7 linked regions of the Homo sapiens genome follow. The protein of the gene in region 1 interacts with the protein of each later gene in a biochemical or structural test. Each region holds a gene or a part of one and is shown in the gene's direction. Other genes may lie near its edges. The genes, in order: MFHAS1, PMM1, CCDC149, CEP85, ANKRD13D, COPB2 and CHGB.

What was found.
Region 2: the proteins of MFHAS1 (region 1) and PMM1 form a complex in vitro, tested with the Homo sapiens proteins (one large-scale study listed by BioGRID and IntAct).
Region 3: the proteins of MFHAS1 (region 1) and CCDC149 form a complex in vitro, tested with the Homo sapiens proteins (one large-scale study listed by BioGRID and IntAct).
Region 4: the proteins of MFHAS1 (region 1) and CEP85 form a complex in vitro, tested with the Homo sapiens proteins (one large-scale study listed by BioGRID and IntAct).
Region 5: the proteins of MFHAS1 (region 1) and ANKRD13D form a complex in vitro, tested with the Homo sapiens proteins (one large-scale study listed by BioGRID and IntAct).
Region 6: the proteins of MFHAS1 (region 1) and COPB2 form a complex in vitro, tested with the Homo sapiens proteins (one large-scale study listed by BioGRID and IntAct).
Region 7: the proteins of MFHAS1 (region 1) and CHGB form a complex in vitro, tested with the Homo sapiens proteins (one large-scale study listed by BioGRID and IntAct).

The regions. Positions count from the first base shown.
Region 1 is NC_000008.11:8,883,631-8,887,130, reverse strand, and holds part of MFHAS1 (malignant fibrous histiocytoma-amplified sequence 1), read left to right. Parts: intron 1-3,500. UniProt on the Homo sapiens protein: Probable GTP-binding protein. Functions in innate immunity and more specifically the inflammatory response as a regulator of the Toll-like receptor TLR2 and TLR4 signaling pathways.
Region 2 is NC_000022.11:41,587,041-41,590,967, reverse strand, and holds the start of PMM1 (phosphomannomutase 1), read left to right. Parts: upstream 1-1,127; 5' UTR 1,128-1,162; coding exon 1,163-1,249; intron 1,250-1,804; coding exon of another isoform or gene 1,805-1,916; intron 1,917-2,200; coding exon of another isoform or gene 2,201-2,309; intron 2,310-3,927. UniProt on the Homo sapiens protein: Involved in the synthesis of the GDP-mannose and dolichol-phosphate-mannose required for a number of critical mannosyl transfer reactions. In addition, may be responsible for the degradation of glucose-1,6-bisphosphate in ischemic brain.
Region 3 is NC_000004.12:24,906,543-24,910,042, reverse strand, and holds part of CCDC149 (coiled-coil domain-containing protein 149), read left to right. Parts: intron 1-3,500.
Region 4 is NC_000001.11:26,275,700-26,279,199, forward strand, and holds the end of CEP85 (centrosomal protein of 85 kDa), read left to right. Parts: intron 1-835; coding exon 836-1,061; intron 1,062-1,433; coding exon of another isoform or gene 1,434-1,436; coding exon 1,437-1,594; 3' UTR 1,595-3,109; downstream 3,110-3,500. UniProt on the Homo sapiens protein: Acts as a regulator of centriole duplication through a direct interaction with STIL, a key factor involved in the early steps of centriole formation.
Region 5 is NC_000011.10:67,288,067-67,292,102, forward strand, and holds the start of ANKRD13D (ankyrin repeat domain-containing protein 13D), read left to right. Parts: upstream 1-1,236; 5' UTR 1,237-1,394; coding exon 1,395-1,484; intron 1,485-1,599; exon of another isoform or gene 1,600-2,011; coding exon 2,012-2,147; intron 2,148-2,241; exon of another isoform or gene 2,242-2,255; coding exon 2,256-2,380; intron 2,381-3,409; coding exon 3,410-3,455; intron 3,456-3,536; coding exon 3,537-3,680; intron 3,681-3,924; coding exon 3,925-4,036. UniProt on the Homo sapiens protein: Ubiquitin-binding protein that specifically recognizes and binds 'Lys-63'-linked ubiquitin. Does not bind 'Lys-48'-linked ubiquitin.
Region 6 is NC_000003.12:139,369,148-139,372,647, reverse strand, and holds part of COPB2 (coatomer subunit beta'), read left to right. Parts: intron 1-814; coding exon 815-925; intron 926-3,103; coding exon 3,104-3,192; intron 3,193-3,280; coding exon 3,281-3,387; intron 3,388-3,500. UniProt on the Homo sapiens protein: The coatomer is a cytosolic protein complex that binds to dilysine motifs and reversibly associates with Golgi non-clathrin-coated vesicles, which further mediate biosynthetic protein transport from the ER, via the Golgi up to the trans Golgi network.
Region 7 is NC_000020.11:5,914,510-5,918,009, forward strand, and holds part of CHGB (secretogranin-1 precursor), read left to right. Parts: intron 1-1,816; coding exon 1,817-1,863; intron 1,864-2,316; coding exon 2,317-2,410; intron 2,411-3,500. UniProt on the Homo sapiens protein: Secretogranin-1 is a neuroendocrine secretory granule protein, which may be the precursor for other biologically active peptides.

The DNA.
Region 1 (3,500 bases):
TTTTGAGATGGAGTCTTGCTCTGTTGCCCAGGCTGGAGTGCAGTGGAGTGATCTTGACTCACTGCAACCTCTGCCTCCTGGATTCAAGCGATTCTCCTGCCTCAGCCTCCCAAGTAGCTGGAATTAGAGGCATGCGCCACCACACCTGGCTAATTTTTGTATTTTTAGTAGAGGCGGGGGTTTCGCCAGGTTGGCCAGGCTGGTCTTGAACTCCTGACCTCAGATGATCCACCCACCTCAGTCTCGCAAAGTGCTGGGATTATAAGCGTGAGCCACTAGGCTTGGCCACCTTTGTCTTTTTAAGAAGTCATTTTGCTTCTGGGGACATTAAAAATTGTTTACTTTTATGTTTTATAAAAGCGTTAAGTTGTCCTATAAACTATAACAATTTTATATGCAACGCTGAAAAAGTTGGACTTTGAATTTTCTTAACTTTGGGATGTTACAGTAAAAGTAAATAGTAAATTACTGTCTCTCTTGATTTTATACAGAAAAAATGTATAAAGTTGCACTAATATCTTTTAAAGTATTTTTATGTGAAAAGCCTATTTTGGCCTTGTCCTGTTGGATTTTCTGGCCTGAGCTGCCCTACTGTAGTTGACCACGGGAAGTATAATGGTAAATTTCTCTTTTCTTATTTTGGTTTATACAAGAAAAGTAATGGGCAGCGTGCAGTGGCTCAGGGCTGTAATCCCTTTGCTTTGGGAGGCTGAGGCAGGAGGATCACTTGGGTCAAGGAGTTCGAGACCAGCCTGAGTAATGTAGCCAGACTCCGTGTCTACAAAAAAAAATAAAAAATAAAAATCAGCTAAGCGTGCACACTTGTGGTCCCAGCTAGTTGGGGGGCTGAGGTGGGACAATCACTTGAGCATGGGAGTTTGAGGTTGCAGTGAACTATGATTGTGCCATTGCACTCTGACCCTGTCTCTTAAAAAAAAAAAAAGAAATGATTGGAAAATGCACATCCAGCAATCACTAGTTTCATAGTTTTTTGTAAAAATAAATCACATTGTCAGAGAGAAGACCTATTTGTCTTATTTAAAATAGGTAATCTGACAACGTGATTATCTTTTTAAGACATCTTATTTAAGACAAATGGGTTGAGTGACAGGAGATTCTTTTGGAAACTCGGAGATGGCCTATGATGAAGCCTAAATGTCACTGTGAAAGTCTTGACCTGCTTTCTCCATCCTGGCCAACATCCTAGCCTGGTCAACCTGGTGAAACCCCATCTCTACAAAAAATACAAAAAAATTAGCTGGGCATGGTGGCTCATGCCTGTAATCCCAGCTCCTGGGAAGAATGAGGCACGAGAATCCCTTGAACTTGGGAGGCGGAGGTTGCAGTGAGCTGAGATTGTGCCACTGCGCTCCAGCCTGGGCGACAGGGCAAGACCCTGGCTCCGAAAAGAAAGTCTTTACCTGCTTCCTGCAGGTACCCTTTCTTTTTTGCAGACTTGCTGCCCATAGCTGGTAGCCAGGATTCCCTTCCTTTTGCTGTTTTCCTTCTCATTGGTTGGTCCTGTATACTTGTCTTAGAGCAAGTTTCTTCTTGTGGGATATTTGTTTATGCTTTTATTCTGTTCTACCAGTATGACCTCTAAACTCAAAGAGTTGGTACTCTTGAAGTTGAGTGAGGGTACATTAAGATGTGGTGGTTAGGACACGGGCCTGCAGCAAGATTCAAGTGCTTTGATATTCCTTTTAAGCAGATGAGTGAATACTGTGTTTTTGAATTGGAAGAGTGTGTCTTAGTGAGTTAAACTTGCATTGACTGCAGATTTTCACTAAATATCCTACTCTCCAAATTATTTAAGGTCATTTTAAAAAATAAGGAGAAAGCAACCCAAATCAGTAGACAGAATGAGTTATGTGGCTTTCTTTAGCTTTACTGTCTTTCATTTACTCAGTAACTTGATGCCTTTTTGTATCTCATGCCAAATGTCTTCTGTCCCTCAGTTTCTTGCACACGGAGTGTACCTCTCCGACAACACAGCATATTTGACTTGTTTTGTTGGTGTTTGGTTGCGTCATGATATATCTTTGATTAGGTTGTTCACTTGCTGCTTCTGAGCCAGAGACACACCCGAGACTTAGTAGCTTCTGCAGAGCCTCTCAGATGTTTGCTGAATGATAGTTTGGTCTTTTTGTGAGAAATAACTTTTTTTTTGGGGGGGTGGGGGCAGGGTCTCACTCTGTCACCGAGGTTGGAATGCATTGGGGCAATAATGGCTTACTGCAGCCTCGACCTCTTGGGCTCAGGTGATGATCCTCCTACTTCAGCCTCCTGAGTAGCTGGGACTCCAGAAACACCCTACCATGCCTGGCTAATTTTTGTGTTGTTTTGTAGAGACAGGGTTTCGCTGTGTTGCTCAGGCTGGTCTCAAAGTCTGCCTGCCTCAGCCTTCCAAAGTGCTGGGATTATAGGCTTGAGCCACCATGCCCTGCCTGAGAACTATCTCTTTTTCTTTGTTATTCACACACTCAGTGAAAATCCCAGGTAGTATTGTAATGATTATCTGGCTTTGTTTAGCTTCCCAACTCCCTCCCCCTCACAGTGTTCCTCCAGCATTCCCATTGTGCGTCTATGACTGGTCTTACCCTTGAATGGGTCCTTCATTTTGACCACTGAAGCAAAGCAAAATTCTTGCCTTATTATATCTAAGTTTTAGAATTACTGGAATTTGAGCATGACCTAGTTGTTTGGATTGAATTAGTCATTGTTTTTAATTTTACAAAGGTTTTTCAATATCTCTTTGGTTAAGCTTTATTAATATTGATGCTTCTTGGCTTTTCTTTTTATGAATAGGCCTCTGAACTCCCTGGGACTTTGTTTTATGTAAAAATCAAAACCTTAATCAGGCACTAGGATAAACAAATACTGTGCAGAATAGAGTTCTAGAAGGCTAGAAAGGCCTTTGGAGTATTTGAATTATTTTAAATATTAGGTGCCTCTTCTTTAAACCCTGGAATAGACTCTTAAGTCCATCTCTGCACAAGTAGTTTAGAATTTCCTAAAGTATTTTTTCTTTAATTTTTTTTTTCTTTTTGTGTGTGTGTGTGTGTGTGTGTGTGTGTGTGTGTGTGTGTTTGTGAAATAGAGATAGGGCCTTTTTATGTTGCCCAAGCTGGTCTTGATCTCCTGGCCTCAAATGGTCCTCCCCACTCAGCCTCCCAAAATGTTGGGATTAGAGGCGTGAGCCACCATACCCAACCAGTATTTTTTATTTAGTGGATATTTTATGTCATACTCTGAGGTTATTCCCCTTTGTCCGTGAAGAGGTGAGGGGCTTTAACTCTGTATTATAGGAGGGGAATGAGTGGGGAAAGGAGGAATTGGACATTTCTGTTTTTCTTCTCATCTACCTATTAACTTGCTTCTATCCATGGGAGCCCTTTCTTTTTTTTTTTTTTTTTTTTTTTTGAGACTGAGTCTCGCTCTGTTGCCCAGGCTGGAGTGTAGTGGCGCTGTCTGAGCTCATTGCAACCTCCACCTCCTGG
Region 2 (3,927 bases), on another chromosome or scaffold:
GTCAAAAATAAAATAAAATAAACATAAAAGTAAGTAAAAATACAAAAATTAGGTGGGCATGGTGGCACACGCCTGCAGTCCCAGCTACTCGGGAGGCTGAGGCATGAGAACCGCTTGAACCTGGGAGGTGGAGGTTGCAGTGGGCAGAGATCCCGCCACTGCACTCCAGCCTGGGCAGAGCGAGACTCTGTCTCAAAAAAAAAAAAAAAAAAGAAGAATCTGGGAAGGTCTCCAAGCAGGTAGACCCTGAGAGCTGGGTCTTATGTGTGGACAGAAGGAATAAGGCTCGGGGAAGGCAATTTGGCAAAGTCCAAAGCCTGAACAAAGGCCTTCAGGAGATTTCTTTTCTTTTCTTTTCTTTCCTTTTTTTTTTTTTTTTTTTTTTTTGAGGCTGGAGTGCAATGGCGCGATCTCGGCTCACCGCAACCTCTGGCTTCTTTGGAATCAAGCGATTCTCCTGCCTCAGCCTCCTGAGTAGCTGAGATTACAGGCATGCGCCACCACGCCTGGCTAATTTTGTATTTTTAGTAGAGACGAGGTTTCTCCATGTTGGTCAGGCTGGTCTCGAACTCCCGACCTCCGGTGATCCGCCCGCCTCGACGTCCCAAACTGCTGGGATTACAGGCGTGAACCACCGCGCCCGGCTCAGGAGATTTCCTACAGCTCAAAATTTGTAAGGCAAAGAGATGGCCACAAACCTTGTGAGAGTGGATGGGGAGCGACCTCGGCTCTCTTAGTCCCGCCTGGCCCACTAGACACTGCACTGCATGGTAGAGGCCCCGCCCGACCCAGCCCCTTAATCGGCCTGTTGCAATCACTATCAACCCGCCAATTCTGGCCCCGCCCCTGTCTTCCGGGTTCACCCTCTCACTTCCTGCGGGTCCCAGGCTCAGGCCCCTCCTCCGCCTTGTTTGGAGCAATCCAATCGAACCTGGAGGGCTCCGCTCCGCCCTATGCCGCGCTCCCCTCCTCCACGAGCAATGAGAATCAGCTCAGGCCCCGCCCCCGCTTCCGCCCGCCTAGACCACGCCCCTTCTTCATTTGGCCAATCAGGCAGTCCACTGGCCCCCGCCCCCTAATGCCCCGCCCCGTCAGCACTTATCCCTGAGCTGCTTCTGCCGTTGCATCTTCGGGACTCCGCCCCGCGCGCGGACCTGCAGCCATGGCAGTCACCGCCCAGGCAGCCCGCAGGAAGGAGCGCGTCCTCTGCCTGTTTGACGTGGACGGGACCCTCACGCCGGCTCGCCAGGTAGGACCCTGAAGATTGGAAGCTCCCACCGGGAGTGTCACGCGGACACCCCCGAGGCTGAGTGTGGGGTCTGCAGCAGCGTGACCGTGGACACCCGGGGACCGAGTGTGGGATGCGGCGGTACCCGGCCCCCTGACATCCGGGGCCACCCACCGGGAGTGAGGGGACCTGGCCCTCACGTCACTGACCCCGCAGCGTCCTTGCCTGTGTTCTGCTTGGGAGTGCTGGGGTTGGATCCAGTACTGGAGGGAGGAGGCTGCGAGCAGGGGCCTAGCTCCCTCCCTCCCCGGAGGCTGTCACACGCCGCTAAGGCCTGGCTCACGGACGCCCCCGCCTCCTGAGCTGGGGATCCCACCCTAGTTCAGCCCTACGACACACCAGTGGTCGGAGCTGGCTTCTGAACCGGGGTTCCAGGCACACAAGCACACAGCCAAGCGTCAGTCATCATCTGGTGGGAGACAGGGCGTCTCGGAGTCTTCCCACCCCGACCTTTGCAGGCCTGGGACTGGGTCTAGTTTCTGAAGCCCCATCACCCACTTTACCTTCCACCCCCAGTCGTGGAGCAGAGAGGGCTTCTTTTCAAATTCGTTTATGAGCTCTACCCACCCGGATGTGAGAGGCTCCAGGCCTAGCCTGTTTGCTGTGAGGACACTGAGGAATAGTGAGGGTAAGAGTCTAGTTTTCTTCTAAAGACTCTCGCTGTGTTGAGCCTCTTACCTCTGCTCAGTTTTTCTCCCATTGGGTCTCATTGTGAGTGAGTCCCCAAAAGCCCCCTCACCAGCTGGATGCATCAGTAAGCAGGCTTCATTCATGCCCTCCCTGTGGGTAACCCACCCTCCAGTCTGGGGGCCTCAAGGACCAACCAACAGGTCTCCTAGCGTGGGGGAGCAGTGGGATGGGCTTTACTGGGCAGTGGCTGATGGGAACCCAGGTCTTAGCCTCCTCTCTTAGGTCCCGAATGCCCCTCCCCATCCTCTGTGGTGAAGTTGCCCTGGCTTGGGCCCTGGAGGCCTTCCTGCAGGGGTGGATCCGGGAGGAAGATAGCAGGACTGGAGCAAAGGTGGGCCATTTGCTTGTGGGTCACGCCTGTAATCCCAGCACTTTGGGAGGCCATGGTGGGCAGATCACCTGAGGTCAGGAATTCTAGATCAGTCTGGCTAACATGGTGAAACCCCGTCTCTACTAAAAATACAAAAATTAGGCTGGGTTCAGTGGCTCACGCCTGTAATCCCAGCACTTTGGGAGGCCGAGGCAGACAGATCACGATGTCAGGAGTTTAAGACCAGCCTGACCAATATCGTGAAACCCTATCTCTACTAAAAATACAAAAAATTAGCCAGGCGTGGTGGCATGCACCTGTAATCCTAGCTAGTCGGGAGGCTGAGGCAGGAGAATCACTTGAACCCGAGAGGCAGAAGTTGCAGTGAGCCGAGAATGTGCCATTGCACTACAGCCTGGGCGACAGAGGGAGACTCAGTCTCAAAACAAAACAAAACAAAAAGTAGATGGGCGTGGTGTCGTGTGCCTGTAGTCCCAGCTACTGGGGAGGCAGAGGCAGGAGAATCGATTGAACCCAGGAGGTGGAGGTTGCAGTGAGCCAAGATTGTGCCATTGCACTCCAGCCTGGGCAACAAGAGTGAAACTCCGTCTCAAACAAACAAATAAATGAATAAAAGAACTGGAACAAAAGTGGCAGGGCCTAGGCACAGTTCTGACTCCTCCCTCTGACCTTTTGCTCCACAAACATAACAACCTGAATAAGAACAGCCTATTAATTTGTCTACGGGCCAGCCTCTGTGCTTAGTGCCTTTTGAAAGTTAATTTTTAATCGTACACATTTTCATGAGCACACTCTCCTGGTAAAGAATGGAAACGTAACAGAGAAGGGTAAAGTCCACTCTGACCGCACTTGGGGAGCCTGGCCGGCTCCCCAAGTTAATGTGGTTACTGTGGTGTGGCTTCCCTCCAGGCCTTTATCTGGATCTATTTGCCCAGAGCAAATATTAAGCATTGTTTTGTGAGGCTATTTTTGTTATTGTTCTTTGGCTCCTCAAAAATCAACTTGATTGTGATGCTATTTTGTTGTTGTTGTTGTTAGAGACCGGGGTCTCACTCTGTCACTCAGTCTGGAGTGCAGTGGCGCTATCACAGCTCACTGCAGCCTCGAACTCCTGGGCTCAAGTGATTCTCCCGCCTCAGCTTCTGGAGTAGCTGGTAGCTGGGACTACAGGCAAGTGCCACCATGCCTGGCTAATATCTTTTTTTTTTTTTTTTTTTGGAGATGAAATCTCATTCTTGTCCCCCAGGCTGGAGTGCGATGGCATGATCTCGGTTCACTGCAACCTCCACCTCCCGGGTTCAAGGGATTCTCCTGCCTCAGCCTCCTGAGTAGCTGGGATTACAGGCGCTTGCCACCACGCCCAGCTAATTTTTTTTTCTTTTTTTTTTTGAGACGGAGTCTCGCTCTGTCGCCCAGGCTGGAGTGCAGTGGCGTGATCTCAGCTCACTGCAAGCTCTGCCTCCCAAGTTCACGCCATTCTCCTGCCTCAGCCCTCCCGAGTAGCTGGGACTACAGGCGCGTGCCACCACGCCCGGCTAATTTTTTTGTATTTTTTAGTAGAGACAGGGTTTCACCATGTTAGCCAGGATGGTCTCAATCCCCTGACCTTGTGATCCAC
Region 3 (3,500 bases), on another chromosome or scaffold:
AATACACTCCTGTTGTTTTAAGCCACCCCGTTTATGATCATTTGTTACAGCAATGTATTAGTCCGTTTTCATGCTGCTTATAAAGACATACCTGAGACTGGGTGATTTACAAAAGAAAGAGAGATTTCATGGGCCTGCTGTTCCACATGACTGGGGAGGCCTCACAATCATGCTGGAAGGCAAGGAGGAGCAAGTAACATCTTACATGGATGGCAGCAGGCAAGGAGGAGCAAGTAACATCTTACATGGATGGCAGCAGGCAAAGAGAGAGAGCTTCTGCAGGAGAACTCCTCTTTATAAAACCATCAGATCTCGTGAGACTTATTCACTATCACGAGAACATTATGGAGGAAACTAGCCCCATGATTCAATTATCTCCCACCAGGTCCCTCCCACAACATGTGGGAGTTATGGGAATGCAATTCAAGGTGAGATTTGAGTGGGGACACAGAGCCAAACCATATCAAGCAGCCACAAGAAACTAATACACCTACTGCTGAAAAGTGCCTGGGGTTGCAGCCCCCTGATCTGCCTTTCTTACAAGCTGAGCTGCCCAGGTAATTCCCCTGCCCAGTCAAGTTTGGCTGGCAGGGGTTCCATGGGTGTGACTGGGTCTGGTACCAGACAGGTAAGATTCAGGGAAGAGTGTGCTCAGCAGCTGTGGTGTTACGAAATGGTTTGGGGACCTGGCAGAAGGACCTGTGGAAGACATCACTGCACAGCTAATCTGGACTACATGGGATTTTCGTGGGCTTGCATTTATTTCTGCAGAAGTCCTGGGTGCTGTCTCCCACCCTGGATCCCCTCTCCATCACCTGCCCAGAGCCCCGTCCTCTCTTTCAATCAGTTGCTTCCTCCACTTGCCTCTAGGAAGCAGTTTTCATTTAAAACAATCCTACAGAGGTCAGTTTTATTTTCATATATTTGGTATAATAAGCTGAAATTACAGCCTTCTTTCAGGCCTGGAAGTAAACACACCCATGCGTGTGAAAGAAGCATGACCAGGGTTCTGTTTTGGAAATTAAATGTCTGGGGAGGGGCAGATATTCTTATCGCCACCTGAGGTGAGCTTTCAAGATTGGAGACATCTCAAAGTACAGGTATGCAGGCAATCAATAACTTTTTATTTCCAAGATAAAAATCCTGGTCATCGCTCAGCCCACCACTCTATGATAAACTATACATAATTCCATTTCACTATTTGAATTTTGGTTAATTAGATAGCAATCAATCTCCTATTCCTTGAGCATGTTGTATGCAGGGGCCAGGAGGCAGAAGACAGTTAACCATGGGCCTCCGCCCAAAGTAGAGACTGATTTTTGGTTTTTGTCGTTGTTGTTTTAGAGATGAGGTCTCACTCTGTTGCCCATGCTGGAGTACAGTGGTGCGATCATGGCTCACTTCAGCCTCCATCTCCTGGGCCCAAGGGATTCTCCTGCTTCAGCCTCCTGAGTAGCTGGAGTTACAGGCACGTGCCACCATGCCCAGCCAATTTTTTTTTTTTTTTTTTTGTAGAGATAGAGTCTTGCTATGTTGCCCAGGCTGATCTTGAGCTCCTGGCTTCAAGGAATCCTGCCTCAGCCTCCCAAAGTGATGGGATTATAGGCATGAGCCACCGTGCCTGGCCTAGCCACTGATATTTGGAAAGGAGAGGTTGAGTAGGTATAGAGTCCAGCTCTGTGGTTAAGGTAAAGACCCAGCTTTGGGTTTCAGTTGTTGACTTAGACTCTGAAGATAATAAGAGACCTGGGGGGAAGTCTTGGCCCTGCCTTTCTCTTGGTACAAAAGATCAAAAACCCAAACCAAAGTGGATCAGCTTAGAGGCAATTTACTGGCTGATGTTGTAGGTTGTACTGTGTCCCCAAAACGATGTGTTCAAGTCCTAACACCCTCCCCTCAACTGCCACCACACAAACACCTGTGAATGTGACCTTATTTGGAAGTAGGGTCTTTGCAGATATAATCAAGTTATGATGAGGTCATCTTGGGTGGGCTCTAATCCAATGACCTGGTGTCCTTATCAGAAGAGGCAAATTTGGGCACAGAGATGCACAAAGAGAAGACAATGTGAAGACACAGACGGAAGAAGGCATGTGACAACAGAGGCAGAAACTGGAGTCATGCAGCTACAAGCCAAGGAAAGCCAAAGATTGCTGGTGACCACCGGAAACTAGGACGAGGCAAGGAAGAATCCTCCCTGAGAGCCTCACTGGGGAACACAGTCCTGCCAACACCTTAATTTTGGACTTCAAACCTCCAGGACTGTGCAACAGTTGAATTCTGTTGTTTTAAGTCCCCCAGTTTGTGATAATTTGTTATGGCAGCCCTTGGAAGTGACTATAACCAACATGACTAGTAATTCCATGCTAGGGCTGGCTTTTGGCTGATTCACCACTCAGACAGTTTCTCTCCATCTTTGAGTCTGCTTGCTGCCTGGCTTTAGTCTAAGCCTCCCATCCTTTCAAGTTCAAGTCCAGAGGGGAAGACAGACCCTTCTCTAGCAGATCCTGTGAAACCCTGGGATGCTCCATTTAAATCCACTTAGATCACTCACCTAAACTGCAAGAAATCGCTCAGGCAGGTAGTGATCTGATTGTTTTAGGCCTGGAGTTGTGTTCAGAGCCCTGCTGCATGACACGTGGACTGTGAGTGGAGCTAGGGTAGATCCCCAAGTAAAATTGGGGGGCTTCTTTTCGAAGAGGGAGAATGGATGTTGAGGGAATGACTGCACCATGTAACTTCTCTGACCCTCATTTTTCTCGTCTTTAAATAGGGTAGTAAAAGTACCTACCTCATAGGTGATCCTAATTGTGAGGATCAAATGAAATAATAATGCTTATGAGTGCATAGGCCTCTGCCGGGCAAGGCAGCAGTGGAACAGTGAGCATGAACCTCACGACAGAAACTCTGGTGTGTGAAAACTATAATTTGCTATAATGCCTTAATTTTGATTACAAGTTTTTGTTGTTTGAGTAGTGGAAATGTAATCTGCATATGAAGCCACACCACTCCCTTTCCCTGAATTTGTATTTAAATTCTAAGGGACTTAACGAAATACTAAGACTAAGGCTAAGTCATTGGCTGGGGTGCTGGGGTGGGCTGTTTTTGTCTACCCACACTCTCCTAATTTAGTCTAGTATCTTGCCCTTGGTCACTCTAGGTCACTGTTGTGTCCTCCCTCATCCCCCCTCAGGTGTCCTCTGGCCCTCTGGCTGTCTGCACCACATCCATGCTACTTTTGGATGAATGAAGAACAAATTGATGAACTGCTTTTCACTGTTCTGGGCATGGTGAACTTTGCTGTCTTGCCCAAGGTGGGGCAAGTTTTATTCATTTTTAAAATTTGGCCGGGCACGGTGGCCCATGTCTATAATCCCAGGACTTTGGGAGGCTGAGGCAGGCGTATCACCCGAGATCAGGAGTTCAAGACCAGCCCGGCCAACATGGCAAAACCTCGTCTCTACTAAAAATGCAAAAATCAGCTGGGCGTAGTGGATGTG
Region 4 (3,500 bases), on another chromosome or scaffold:
ACAGAGCTGTCAGCAGGGGGCAACCAAGTTCACTGACTGGCCTAGTGCCTAGGAAGGAACCTCCTTGAGTTAGGATTGTCACATGGCCCAGTGTGGGTGGAGGGCCTGGGACTGAAGGACGGACTCTATTCAGACTCTATAAAAATACAATCAAGGTAGGAAGGGAAGGAAAGTGGATTAAGCTGTCAGGAAGAGAGGGAAACAGACAGACATACATGAATAGATGGTTTTTGTAATAAAGTCTGACTCCACTGAGGTGAGAGTTTGAAAAGGCAGGACTTGTTCCAGGGCTGGATCCTCCAGGTTCCAGCTTCTCCAGCCCCCCACCTAGTGGCTACTAGCTGTCATATTGTCTTTCTTACTCTCTTTATTCCTCTGACACACTGTGATCAGGCTGGCTGGTGGCCACTTTTGTCAGGGTGGCAGGGAGAGATTGAAACCAGTGTCTCCTCAGATTTCACGGTTCACATTAAGCCTTCTCTAATAGCCTGGCTAACAGAGTTGGCTGAGGGACTGGCTTGAGATAGAGTTCCTAGGGGCGGGAGCATCTTCTCTGGTTCTTGAACAGAAACTTGGATGCTGATGATTCAGAACCAGTTGAGGGTTGGCTTCCTCTCCAGTGCTAGAGCCCTGTGGGCCCAACCTACCCACAGGAAGAACCAGGCCTGATACTGATAGTGGGAGAAGTGCTAAAAGCCTGTTGGCAGGGGTAGGGTTGGGGAAGGAGGGACACTGCCTATGACTCACCCATCCCTTCCACACCCACACACTCATGCACAGATACTCTTCCTCTCCCTGGGCCTGAGTTAATGTGCTTACCCATCTGTCTGCTCAGCTTTCAGTGCAAAACCAGGACTTGATTGAGAAGAATCTGACACTCCAGGAACACCTGCGCCAGGCCCAACCAGGGTCTCCACCTTCACCAGACACGGCCCAGCTGGCACTTGAGCTGCACCAGGAGTTGGCCAGTTGCCTTCAAGATCTGCAGGCTGTCTGTAGCATTGTGACCCAGAGGGCCCAGGGCCATGACCCCAATCTCTCCCTGCTCCTGGGCATTCACTGTGAGTCCTCAGACCAGTCTGGGGCCCAGGAAGGAGGGTCCTTCTTTCTCTTCTCTCCCCCATCCTGCTTTCCCATATTCTTGTGGTAATATGTAGACAGAGTACATAGTCCTGGCCACTGCCCTCTGGACATTTATTTGTTTCACAAAGTAGGTGTTCACAAATCTGTTTTTGGAAACAAGCTATGGGGTACTTGCATGCAGGACAAACTAAAAGTGGACCTTCAGCAGCAAATTAACCCACTGTCCCCAGATGCTTTTTTTAAAGTGCATGTCCCAAGACTGTGGGTTCAAGATACTGCCTATCCATACTGCACCCTCCACATGAAAATGTCTCATAACTAACATTCTCTTGAAATGCTCTTCTCCCCAGCAGCACAGCACCCAGAGACTCAGCTAGATTTGCAGAAGCCAGATGTGATCAAGAGGAAACTAGAAGAGGTTCAACAGCTGCGTCGTGACATTGAGGACTTAAGGACCACCATGTCAGACAGATATGCCCAGGACATGGGAGAAAACTGTGTCACACAGTGAGGAATTCTGGGGGATTCCCCCAGGGAGGAGCTGGGCTGCTGAGAGCCTAGTCCAGCAGGTTTCTGCCCTGACATTCTCTTGTCTGCTATTCCCAGAGAGGTCTCAGAGGGGAGGGGAGAGCCTGCATCTGGGGGCCAAGGGCTGATTAGGGAACTGTGTCCTACCCACACTGGCATGTTGGATTACGTTTGTCCTGTTAATTCACTCTAGACGGTGAGTTACTAATTAACTTTTGGCAGGTACAACAGATAAGTCCTCACAAACTGTTCCCAGCCCTAGGCTGACATGAGAGACGAACAGGCTGTCCACCTTTCTTCTCCATCCAATGGGATGGATCCATGTTCATTCCCACTTCACACCTTGGTCCTGCTGATTAGAGAGCTCATCAGAGGGGCCTGGAAAGGCTGAGCAAGTACCAGTGACAATGGCCATTTAAGAATTCTCAGGCCCCATGTGCCAGCCTTCTTGGGAACTGAGCTGGCTTTCTGGGTTTTCTCATGCCTGGTCTTACTGCTTCTTCCTCAGGGCTCTTGTTCTCCCAGAAGCCTCAGGGTAATGTGTTGGTTAGCACGTAACTACTAGGATTGGGGCCCTAGGGATTATAGCCAGGACTCTAATCTGCCTACCATGCCATTTAACAAGAGATCCCACTCTCCAGCTGCCTTGTGTCCCTAGGGTCCTGGCCATGTGTTTAGTGTGCTAAACTTTCTCCTTTGTTCTCAGGCCTTCCAGGTAGTCCCCTTCCTGGACTTAAGAGTGCAAACTCTTCTCTGTGGTTCTAGCCTTGGGCAGAATTATATCCCAGAGACCACAGAGCAACTGTCAAGCTGCTTACCCCCTCACCCAGGGCTACAGCCTGTGCCCAGCCCTCTAATTTGTGCCTCTCTTGTGTTGGGGGTGGTGGGGGTTATTCCTTTCCCTTTCCTGCTCTGGCCTCCTTGAAAGTTCAGAGTACCCAGTACAAGTCAGCTTTAAAGTACAGCTTTTAGTGTTTCCTGGGTTGTTTCTCTGGGGCTTTAGTGAGGGACCTTTGCCCTCTGGTTTTTCTTGCCTCCTGGTTTAGGGAGCATCTCACACTTGTTAGTATCTGGTTGTTGGGCCAGCCGTGCCTCCTCTAGATCTGGAGCCAGGCCAGGCAGGGGCCACGTGTGGGCCAGTCAGCCACTACAAGATTTTTGCTAAGCTTTGGGCTGTTGGCAGCATCTTGGACCTCATGCCTGGGCCTGAATGAGGCTCTTTCTTAAGTGTTTTTACAAGTTTGTGTTTTATTTATGGAGTGACTTATCCCTTCCATTCAGAGCAGCCCCACCCAGCCAGCCCTTCAGCCTCTGGGCTCCTGCTGCTTAAAGGCAGAGCCGCCTGGTTGGTCTCCACCCTGTGCATTGGGAGCCCAGCCACCATGCTGACGGGTATTTTTCCTCATAAAGTTTATAACCAGTTATTTATATGAATCTTTGTTATGTCCATTTGTTTGTATTGCGTATTTTGATTATAAAATAAAGTATCTTAACAGACTCCTCAGTTTTCCATACCCTTCCATCACCACCACCACGCTATTCTACCCCTCACTTTGGCTTGTTAGAGCCAAACACCTGGGTGTTCAGCCAGGTCCCCCAGGCAGCAGCGTGGAGGAACCTTTGGCAGGTCCAGCCAGCCTCATGTCCCTATCTATCTCTGCCACCTCTGCTCCTCTGTCGTTCTATAGAACCAGATCTCTTCCCACTCACTTTCTCTTGGGCAAACCTTCCCTGAGTCATAACAGAAGTTTGTCACTGGAAAGTTTCAGCAGTCCTCTCAGGAAGTTGGCAGCCTCTGGGTTGCTGTGAGGAAGTGGCTTTACCAGAGCAAGGGTTGTCTTTCTGGGCTGTTAACCTGCCTGAGCCCTGGACCAGGGGGACATCTGAGA
Region 5 (4,036 bases), on another chromosome or scaffold:
GAGGGCTCAGGGAAGGGACCGCCTCTGAGAAAAGGGGTGGCCAGGGAGGGCTGCAGTAGTGGTGAGCAGGTGAGCTCTGGGCATTCAGAAGCCTTCGGGCTGCTACCAACCCCAGGACCTCACAGATTGACACCATAGCGTGGGGTGGCAAAGTGACCCCAGATGGCACAGGCGCCATGTGACTACAGGGAGAAGGCAGGGTAAAAATGGCAATCAGGCCTTCCAGCCCAGAGTCTCAGAACTGAGGACGCCCTACAGCAGGAAGTGATGCTCAAGCTAGCTGGCCCTCCTCAATCATGTTCCACGTAGGGAAAGGGAGAATAGAGGGTCAGCCTTGGCCACCTAGCAAAACCAGGGCCCCAGACCCCAGGCTGGGCCTCCAGTAATCAAGGGCCGGAACTGAGCTGACGGAGGCCTGCACCCTAGTTCCGGTGTGGGTGGAGGGGCCGGCCCTGATTTCGAAACTCGCCTTCCTCTCCTGACGCTGGCAGCCAACCGCAGCCTCTGCAAAAGGGACTCGTGCGGCGGGCGAAGGCAGCCGTTCGCCGCGGGCGGTCCTCCGCCGGGACGGCTCTGCCGCTGCCTGGGCCTGCGCCCCTCTCTCCCCGAACTCCTATCCCTGACTTCAGGGCCCCGGGGGCCGCCTCCCCGCATCGCTGGGCCTGCAGACACCGGCCAGGTCCCAGGGGAAGGTGCTTCCCGCTCAGCCGGCAAGCACTTAGTGGCGTCTGCTCGTTGCTCGTCTCCAGGCCGGGTGAGGGGAGCCGGGGCGCCCCACTTCACCCGCACACCCCAGCAGAGTCGGTGACCGCGGGACCTGGGGTAGGAAGACCGGGGCGAGCAAGGGGATCCGCGGGGGAAACGCAGGCATCACGGCTGCAGCAGGACCGCGGCCCGCCGCGCACGCGCGTGCACTACCGAGGGGCCCAGTGCCCGCCCCCTCCGGCCCCGCCTTCCTCTTCCGGACCCGGCTCCGGGGGTCTGCGCAGGGCTCGGGGCGCCTCCTGCGGGCCGCGGGCGGAGCTGTAACCGGGCACCGCCCTCCAGGCCGCCCCAGCGGACCCGGGCCCGACCGAGGTCGGGGCGCAGACCCAAGGCCGGGCATCTCCTCGGGCGCTCGCGGTTGCTCTGCCGCGCGCTGGCCTGGCCGCGGTTGCCATGGTTGCGGGGGGACGGGGGCGCGCGCGAAGCCCCGCCCCGGCCCGGCGCAGCCCCGCCCGCTCCGCCGCCCGCCCCGCCCTCCCTGCCGCCCGCGCTGCCGCCGCCGCCGCCGCCGCCGCTACTGCTGCGGGGGCCGCGGGGGGCGCAGCTGGGGCGCGGCTCGGAGGGGAGGCTAGGGGGCCGTGCCAGGCCCGAAGCCGAGGCGGGGCCGGGATGCGGCGCTGAGGCCCAGCATGGCCGGCCCGGGCCCCACCTTCCCGCTGCACCGGCTCGTCTGGGCGAACCGGCATCGCGAACTGGAGGCCGCACTGCACAGCCACCAGGTGAGGCCCCGCTGGGGCACCCGGCCCTTCCCCCGGGTCCCCCACCCAAGGCTGTGGCCTCCGTCCTGGAGCCCCCCCCCCCCCCCCGCCCGCTCAGCTCCGCAGCCACATCCTGGGCCTTCCTCCCCTGCACGATCCCAAGCCCAGGTCACCGGCCCCTCGCGCCTGAGCCTCTGGCCTCCTCTCCCCTGCGCTGGGCCTTGCCCTGCTCGCCCGAACTCGCTTCCGCATCCTTGCTGACCCAAGCTGAGAACAAGAACTCTGGTCCTGGTCCCCAGGTTCCGCCAAACTCCTGACAACCTGCAGCTCTGCCTGACCAGGCCCCGCCGCCAGACCCCGGCTCTGCCCCTGCCTTCCCTCCTGCCCCCTCCTCTCCCCTGCCAGGACACGCAGGCCACCCTCTGCCATCTCCCTGGTCAGTCCGCCGTCCTTATTTCCCACAGCGATTCCCAACCCTGCTCGCCCTGGCAGCCTCCCTGCCTTGCCCTCTTCTCTCCTGCCCTTTGTGAGTGTCCCGTCTCCCCCAGCACGACATTGAACAGGAGGACCCCCGCGGGCGGACCCCACTGGAGCTGGCCGTGTCTCTGGGAAACCTGGAGTCTGTGAGAGTGCTCCTTCGACACAATGCCAACGTGGGCAAAGAGAACCGCCAGGGCTGGGCAGGTACTGCAGAGGACAAGGGGCTCCCCCTGAGGCTGGCAGGCGGGGGGCAGTGAGCAGCCAGGCCTGGGGTCATCTGGAGGGCTCCCCTCAGCAGCCTGGTGCCCGCAGTCCTGCAGGAGGCAGTCAGCACTGGAGACCCCGAGATGGTGCAGCTGGTGCTCCAGTATCGGGACTACCAGAGGGCCACGCAGAGGCTGGCGGGCATTCCGGAACTGCTCAACAAACTTCGCCAGGTACAGCAGGGCACAGTTATGGAGGTGGGGTACCATGGCAGGGCACCACCCTGGTTACTGTGCCAGGCCTGGCCTTGGAAAGGCACCCAGTTTGTGCAGTGTGCCTCCTGCCACCAGCAAGGAGGTCTGTCTATCTTGACCCCAGCCCAGGGTCACGTAGGAAAGAGAGACGGCCAGGCTCACGTGGGAGAGACTGGACCCTTTGGAAGAGAAGCCTTGCCAGCTTTGGGCCTCCTGAAGAATGCAGATTACCTGGAGCAGGGACTTCAGGTTGACTCGGTGGATTATGGCCTGAAACCCTGGAATACTTGCTACTACGCACCCTTCTGGAAGCACACGGAGGGGCCTGGCTGGCAGAGCATACTATCTCATACCCCCTACCCCAGGAGCAGGCTCGGAGGGAGCCACTGTGCCCCCTTTACAGAGTAGGACTCTGAGACCCAGTGGAAACAAAGGCTCCCCCAGGGCTCTGCACAGGCTCATGGCCAGGTTGAGGCTGGCCCTCCACCTCCAGGTGCTTACAGCCTCATTGTCTGAAGACCACTGTAGTGCCCCACTTGGCCCACCCTCTCCAGGGCAGAGTGGTTGGGCGTAGCTGAGCCATAGCAGTGCGTCAAGACTTGATGAAGGGCCAGGCGTTGTGGCTTACTCCTGTAATCCCAGCGCTTTCTGAGGCCAAAGTGGGCGGATCACTTGAGCCCAGGAGGTGGAGACCAGCCTGGGCAACATGGTGAAAGCCGTCTCTACAAAAAGTACAAAAATTAGCTGGGAGTGGTGGCACACACCTGTGGTCCCAGCTACTCGGGAGGCTGAGGTGGAAGAATCACCTGAGCCCAGGGAGGCAGAGGTTGCAGTGAGCCGAGATTGCACCACTACACTCCAGCCTGGGTGACAGAGCAAGTCTCAAAAAAAAAAAAAAAAAAAAAAAAGACCTGATGAAGGGCTGGGCTGGCTGTGGACAAGGGGCTCCCAGGCCTGCTGGAGCCAGCAGCAGGCAGGGCGCTGACAAGCAGCTCTGGTTTCTCTTAGGCCCCCGATTTCTACGTTGAGATGAAGTGGGAGTTCACCAGCTGGGGTGAGTGGGGACCTCTGGGCTCCCAGGGATTTGGGGTGGGGCCTTTGGAAAGACCCCCAGTGACCCCTGTGCACCCTGCAGTGCCCCTTGTGTCTAAGATGTGCCCAAGCGATGTGTACCGCGTGTGGAAGCGGGGTGAGAGCCTGCGAGTAGACACCAGTCTCCTGGGCTTCGAGCACATGACCTGGCAGCGGGGCCGGAGGAGCTTCATCTTCAAGGGCCAGGGTGAGCTCTGGACAAACTCATTGCAGCTCCTCGGCCCTTGGGTTTCCTGCGGCTTGGGAGGACGGTGCTGCCTTTTCTCTCCACTTTCCAGATGTGGAAGCTGAGGTTGGGGATGGAGGGGCATCCAGGGGCCAAGACTGACCCACTTGGCAGCAGGTGGCTGAGGGTACATGATCGCCCTCTCTGCACTGCTGGCGCCCAGCACTGATTTGCGCCCCCTCTGTCCACCCCTACCGGCCGGCAGAGGCAGGAGCCCTGGTGATGGAAGTGGACCATGACCGGCAGGTGGTGCATGTGGAGACACTGGGGCTCACTCTGCAGGAGCCCGAAACACTGCTGGCCGCCATGCGGCCCAG
Region 6 (3,500 bases), on another chromosome or scaffold:
GCAGGTCTGGGCATCTTATAATGCTGTGCTGAGTATTGAAAAAGACAAAAGATATAAACCAAGTATGCCGCCTAGTTCAGTAAATGGTATCCATAATTATTTGTAATATAATTGTCTTATAAAGGTTAAGAATGCATTATGCATATTTCCCTTAATATCGTAAAACATTCTTGGCTGTAAGTTTTGCCTTTGGCAGTCTTTTGATACCAGCCTTTACAGTGTTATAAACAACTTTAAAGATAGTTGTCTTATGTCCATTGGGAAAATTTTCGTTGACTCTGCAGCATTCTGTTTTCTCATTATTTAAATGTTAAAATATCCTCTGTATTTTGCTGAATTTAAGTCTTTAAAACCTGGAGTGAGATATTTTTATTCATTTGAATGATCAGCTTTAAAATGAAGATAGTCTTTGTAATAATATAGTGCCTTCCTGTGGTATAAATGTCATGAGCAAAGTTCTAGGCATCTTGGTGCTCAACAAATACTGGTTGAATAATTGGAATCCTCCTCCTTTGCATTTCCAGCCATTCTCACCTTCCTGCCTCCAGTTGCCTTTATTTATGAGAAGACCATTCCAATAACATTTCAGCAGTAATGCCATATTCATAATTTCCTTTTCAATTTGTTGGCTAGAATTTTTTTTGTAACTTTGTATTCAAAGAAATGTATAACTTTTAAAAGATGTTAAATTGTAATAATGAACTAAATAACATTTGTTATTAGAATTCTTTTACCATAACATGAATTATTGTTCCTTAACTTCTACATGTCTTTGGTCCTCTGTACTTCCCTCCCTGGCTTCTGTGATTTCTAGGTTTGTGGTGGTGTGTGGTGATGGGGAGTATATCATCTACACAGCAATGGCATTGAGAAACAAGAGCTTTGGATCTGCTCAGGAGTTTGCATGGGCCCACGATTCTTCAGAGTAAGTTTTGATTGTATGATAGCCAGCATGCCCTGATTGCAGATGTGTTGTGTGCTGCTTGAAGACTCTCAAGGCTTGATGTGGGCTGTGATTCTCCGTGTTAAAAAACAGTTCTCACCAGAGCTGTCCATTGGAAGATGAGAGTCAGAGGCGAGTGTATAGCATGAGCCGTCTTAGTGCTTTCTTTGTTCTGCGTTAGGCTGGCTCACTCAAGCTGATACAATAATTCCATTTAACTGGGGACCCAGCACCCATTTCTTTGATGGAGCCCATGGCAGGACCTGGTGCTTTATGGGCTTAAGGCACAGTAGACCCTCATGTCTGCCTTGGCAGGCCTTGGCATGCCCTCCCTGTGATGTAGTGTCCTGAGGTGCTACTGCCCCTTTATGAGCTACTTGGGAGTGATGTTGTGGTTTGATCATTTTGATGAGAAATTTATTAAATCTTTTTTAAAACTTATTTTCTGTGATAGTACCCACTGCCCATTCTTAACAAATTTCTGTCTGAATTCAGAATGTTCATAAAATGTTCTCATTAAAAGCAGGAAAGATCATTTAACTCTGACTTTTTTACTAGTCATTGGCTCTGGTTCCTTTTTGATTCCTGTTTAATGCACGTAATAAACATTAGGGGTTTAGTGTTTTCAGACCACACAACTGAATTACATTTTCACAGTTTTTTTAGTTTTGTTTGCCCCACATTTTATGTTGCATCTTGCCCCCAACAGTGGGGTAACTTAAGCCTCAGCGTTGTGTAATAAGATACATTTTTTAAAATGTTACAACAGTAAGATTTATTGAGAGGTATGGAATTGTTCTGATATTTTCATAAATTTCCTAAATACACATATACATACAGTTCTATGTATTCAAAGGTAATGTGTTATCTTAAGCAAAATTATAGTTGATGAATTGCCTTCTCTCAGCACACCTCTTCCTCTATTTTGATAGTCCTTTTTTTCAGCTCTATCCAGCCAAGACCTTGCTCAGCATCTTTCCTGTCCTGAGCAAAGCCCTCATCACATCACTTCCTCAGACAATCTTAAATATCCAGTGATAGCCACAGCTCCTTTTTTCAAGGCAGAGGCCTGAATATAAGCAGTTGTTGCTGATGATGGCTGATTAATGAACCATTTGTCACAGTTTTTATTATTTAAATCGCCCTTATTGAGGTATAATTTACAGAAGACAGAATGTACCACTTAATTGTACAGCGATCCCCCGATCTGTGGTTTCCCTTCCTGCAGTTTTAGTTACCCACAGTCAACTGTGTTCCAAAAATATTAAGTGGAAAAGTCCAGAAATAAACAACTCATAAGTTTTAAATTGCCCAGTGTTCTGAGTTGCATGGTGAAATCTTGAGCCATCCTACCTGGGACGTGAATCATCGCTTTGTCTAGCATATCCACATTGTATATGCTGCCCACCTCTTACATTATAGGAAAAAACATAGTGTATATAGGGTTCAGTACTATCTGAGGTTTCAGGCATCCATTGGGGCTTAGAACGTATCCCCCATGGATAAGGGAGGACTACTGTTCATGTCAGTAGATTTGGGCAAATGTATGTAATCCGTAACTACTAACACAATCAAATTATAGAACATTTCTATCATCCCCGCAAAATCCCCTTGTCTCCATTAACAGTCTGTCCATACCCCCCATCCACCCATTCCCCAGTCCCAGGCAAACACTGATGAGTGCCTTTTGTCACTATATAGATTAGAGTTGTCTTTGGAGTTTCATATAAATGGAATCATACAGTATGTACTCTTGAGTCCAGCATCTTTTGTTCAGTATAATGTTTTTGAGATTCATCCATATTCTTGCCTGGATCAGTAATTGGTTTCTTTATTTGCAGAGTAGCATTCCATTATATGAATATACGATAATTTGTTTAATCATTCACCTATTGTGGACATTTGGGTCATTTTCAGTTTCTAAAGTGGTTTGTAAGCCCTAGTAATTCATGTCATACACAGTATAAAACCCTTTCATCATTTGTCCAACTGTAAGGAGTTCTCTGATCTCTTAGGAAAACAGTACATCAGATAATCTTCAAATATTTATTTTATATTTTTGCATAATTACTGAAAAATATTTGAAGATATTTCCAACATTTGGTAGAACTATGATTTAGTATATAACATGTTATGTTTGCCTTCCCTTTTTTCTCCCAGGTATGCAATAAGAGAGAGCAACAGCATTGTAAAGATATTTAAGAACTTTAAGGAAAAAAAATCATTTAAACCAGATTTTGGAGCAGAAAGTGAGTGTGATCTACATATGATACATTTTTAAATTCTTTGTAATGGCTCAAAAATGCCTAAGCAAAACTCTTTTTATGTTCCCTTTAGGTATCTACGGCGGCTTCTTATTGGGAGTCAGATCTGTAAATGGCTTAGCCTTCTATGACTGGGACAATACAGAACTCATACGAAGAATTGAAATTCAGCCCAAACATGTGAGTTTCCCCTCCATTGTTGTTTTTGGAATATTTATTTTTGTGATGAGTTCTGGGTCCCTAAGGCCAAGAAGTGTCTTTTGTACCCTGCTCTCCCTCTTCGATTATCAAAA
Region 7 (3,500 bases), on another chromosome or scaffold:
TAAAAAAAAAGGGAAAGTATTAGCAAGAAACTGCATTATCAAGAAGGCTTAGTAAAGCTGCATTTTTTAAAAGTCATCTGATTTATTAGGGGAGTTATTCTCTCGCAGTCATTTATTTGCAGAAGATATTACAGATTTCCAGCGGAAAGAGAAAGTGCTGAAATGGGTGTGTTCTCAAGTAGCCATTTGGAGGATGAAAGAACAGTTGAGTATATTGGACCTTGGGTACCAAAAGTGGGCCAACTGGATCTTGCCTGATAAGCATTTCAGGAGGAACTTGGGGTCTTCATAGCATAACTTTGGGCTTCTTGAAACAGTTGAAGTGATCCCAGATCATGCTTTGAAAAGAAAAATTTGGTAAAGTAAGTAAATGAATAGGTGTTTTATTTCCAGGTTGAGCCCCATGATATGTAATTGATAGGGGGTGGGGAATGTTTAAAGAGGCTTAGAGCAAAGCATTTTGCAAGGAAAGGTCAGGTTGCTGCATTTGAATAGCTTTCATGTCTGATGTCTGAGAACTTGCCCCAGCTAGCTCTACTCTCTTCTCAGGGACTTAGAAGAATTTTCTGCACTAGCGTCTCCTGCTCAGTTGCCTGCTACAGGAATGCCAGGAGAACTGTAGAGATGGACTTACATGTAAATGCTTTGGGCTGTTCTAATAGAAAGGGCTTAGAACAAAGTCAAAGTGAAAAAAGAATCAAAGCAGCTTTGAGACAGAAAAAAAATGGCACTGAAAAATTAAAATTACCTGAAGCATTTTTGAAGAAGACAAAGCAACTTCAAACACTGTTTTAAGATAGGCGGAATCCCATGAAATTTTATTGAAATAAATTAAAATTTTTCTTTTAAAATATTCTTATAAACCAATGGTTAAACACCAATTTGCATAAAATATTATGGACTTGATGCTGTACTAGGAGGGTTAGATATCTGCCATGTTCTTTACATGGTTGCAAACAGTGTGGAGAAAGAGAAACACAATGTTGATACGGATGCATAAACGAGCTTGTTCAGGCAAAGGCCTTGCGGGTGAAAAATGAGGTAATTAATTATGGAAGACATCCATAACCATGTTTTTGTCAAGGAAGTAAGTTTTGGGAGGATATATTTTTGGAAACAGAGATACGGAGAGAGAGCCACAGATCTTTACCTATTTGGGGTAGGCAGAGAAGGACCAAGGAGGGCATTCTTGTTTTATTAGACTTAGTTTGGTTTAAACTTTTTTTTTTTTGAGACGGAGTCTGGCCCTGTCACCCAGGCTGGAGTACAGTGGCACGATCATGGCTCACTGCAACCTCCGCCTCCTGGGTTCAAGCAATTCTCCTGCCTCAGCCTCCCAGGTAGCTGGCGCGTGCCACCACGCCTGGCTAATTTTTTGTAGTTTTAGTAGAGACAGGGTTTTGTCATGTTAGCCAGGTTGGTCTCGATCTCCTGACCTTGTGATCCACCAGCCTTGGCCTCCCAAAGTGCTGGGATTACAAGCATGAGCCACCGCACCCAGCCCTAGCTTAAACTTTTAATTGAAATAAAATATATAGAAAATGGAACAGATCATGAGTATACAGCTTAATACGCACACCTGTGTAACCAGCACTGAGATTAAAAAATGGGACATTTCTGGTTCCCCAGAAGTCCCCTCCTTGTCTGTGGTCTAGATTTGATTTATACCGGATCTAAAATAGCATTTGTTTCCAAATATATTTAAGACATTGCCAGGGGAAAAACAACAACTAATGTGGGGTGATTTTGTCAGTTGGGGTCACACAGCTTTCAAAAACCAACTCAAGTCATTTTCCATTCTTTTTCTCCTTCAAAGCTGTCAATTCCATGCCAGTGGATAACAGGAACCACAATGAAGGAATGGTAAGTTGCAATGTCAATCTTAGAATCTAGACTTGTGTCTAGACTCTAGATTCTCCCAGTCCCTATTATACCAAACCAAACACACGCATGACATAATCTTACAAAGCCAGGTTTTCATTGCTGACAGAATGTGAGCAAGGGATGCCCCTCCTGCACTGAGCTCCTATGTCCTGTCAGGATGGTTTAGCACCCCTGAGGATAGCTGTGCCATTGGTTCAGAAATGGGTGTTTATTTCCCTTCTCCAGATAATCCCAACTCAGTGCCTTCTTGCATTATTCTGTGTAGAAGTTTGGAAGATTTCATTCTGTTCCTGTAAATCTGTATCTCCGCCCTAAGAATACTGCATCAGCCCAGGTCACGTAATCAAGTCTTCCTTGACAGCAGCTCTGGGTTGAGTAGTCTGTCATCCAGTGATACCAGCTTCTCCAACCTGCTTTCGGGTTTCCCCCCAGGTGACTCGCTGCATCATTGAGGTCCTCTCAAATGCCTTGTCGAAGTCCAGCGCTCCACCCATCACCCCTGAGTGCCGCCAAGTCCTGAAGACGAGTAAGTGTCCCACACGGCAGGCAGATCTTGGTCACTGCAGTGATCCTTGTTCCTACTCCCTCCACATCACCTTCTACTTTATCTACAAATGACCTGGGGGCATAATGCACTAGGAAGAGTATTGATTGACTAGGCCAGTATCTGGGAGACAGAAGATATGACTCCTAGTTCCTGCTTTACCACTTCGCAGCTGTGTGACTATAGGAAAGACAGTTTGCCTCTCTTTTCCTCAAAGTAAAATGAAGGAGTTGAACTCAGTGATAGTCTTTCAGATGTCTATCCGTTCTTAAATTCCTTAGTTCCATACTTTGGATTTTTAGAACCGGACTTCCTTTGGGTGGAGGGGGTTTGGGAAATGCTGGTTTGTGATTAGATGAGGAGGGGGGTTATGGAAGTGTTGGACAATGACAGAGGGAGATTTAAAAATCATTCTTCTCTTTGCCTTTTGCTCTTCTGACAGTGAGAATCAGGAAGCTGAGAAGCAAGAAACTTAGAAAGGTGACTTAAAATTCTGGCCTATTTACACAACAAATTAGCTAAGATATTTTAATGTATAGCTTACTAGAATAGAAGGTGCCACCAAATGGTACCAGGAGTTCCAGGCCTGAGAACTGGAAGGGTTTCAGGTAGAGGCAGTGCATTCCAGTGAGGCAGACTAATGGCTTTCTGAGTCCAGCCTGTGAAGTGTTCTCAATATGAAACCATTTCTGCTGAAAATAAAATTTGAACAGTAATATAAGCAGTACCCATTGGAAATTGACATTATGAGGTCAATTTTACAAAACTATGCAGTCTCTGTTATGCATGAAGCCACACTGATTCAAACAAATCCAGAAAACACTGCCCTCTTCAACACTGTCCTCTGCTTTTAAACTTTTAGTCAGGCTGGGAACAGTAGATTTTATCTTATTTTTTCACCTTTAAAAATCTTTCAGGTGGGCATAGTGGCTCACACCTGTAATCCCAGCACTTTGGGAGGCCGAGGCAGGTGGATCACCTGAGGTCAGCAGTTTGAGACCAGCCTGGCCAACATGGTGAAACCCTGTCTCTACTAAAAATACAAAAAAAAAAAAAAAAAATTAGCCAGGCA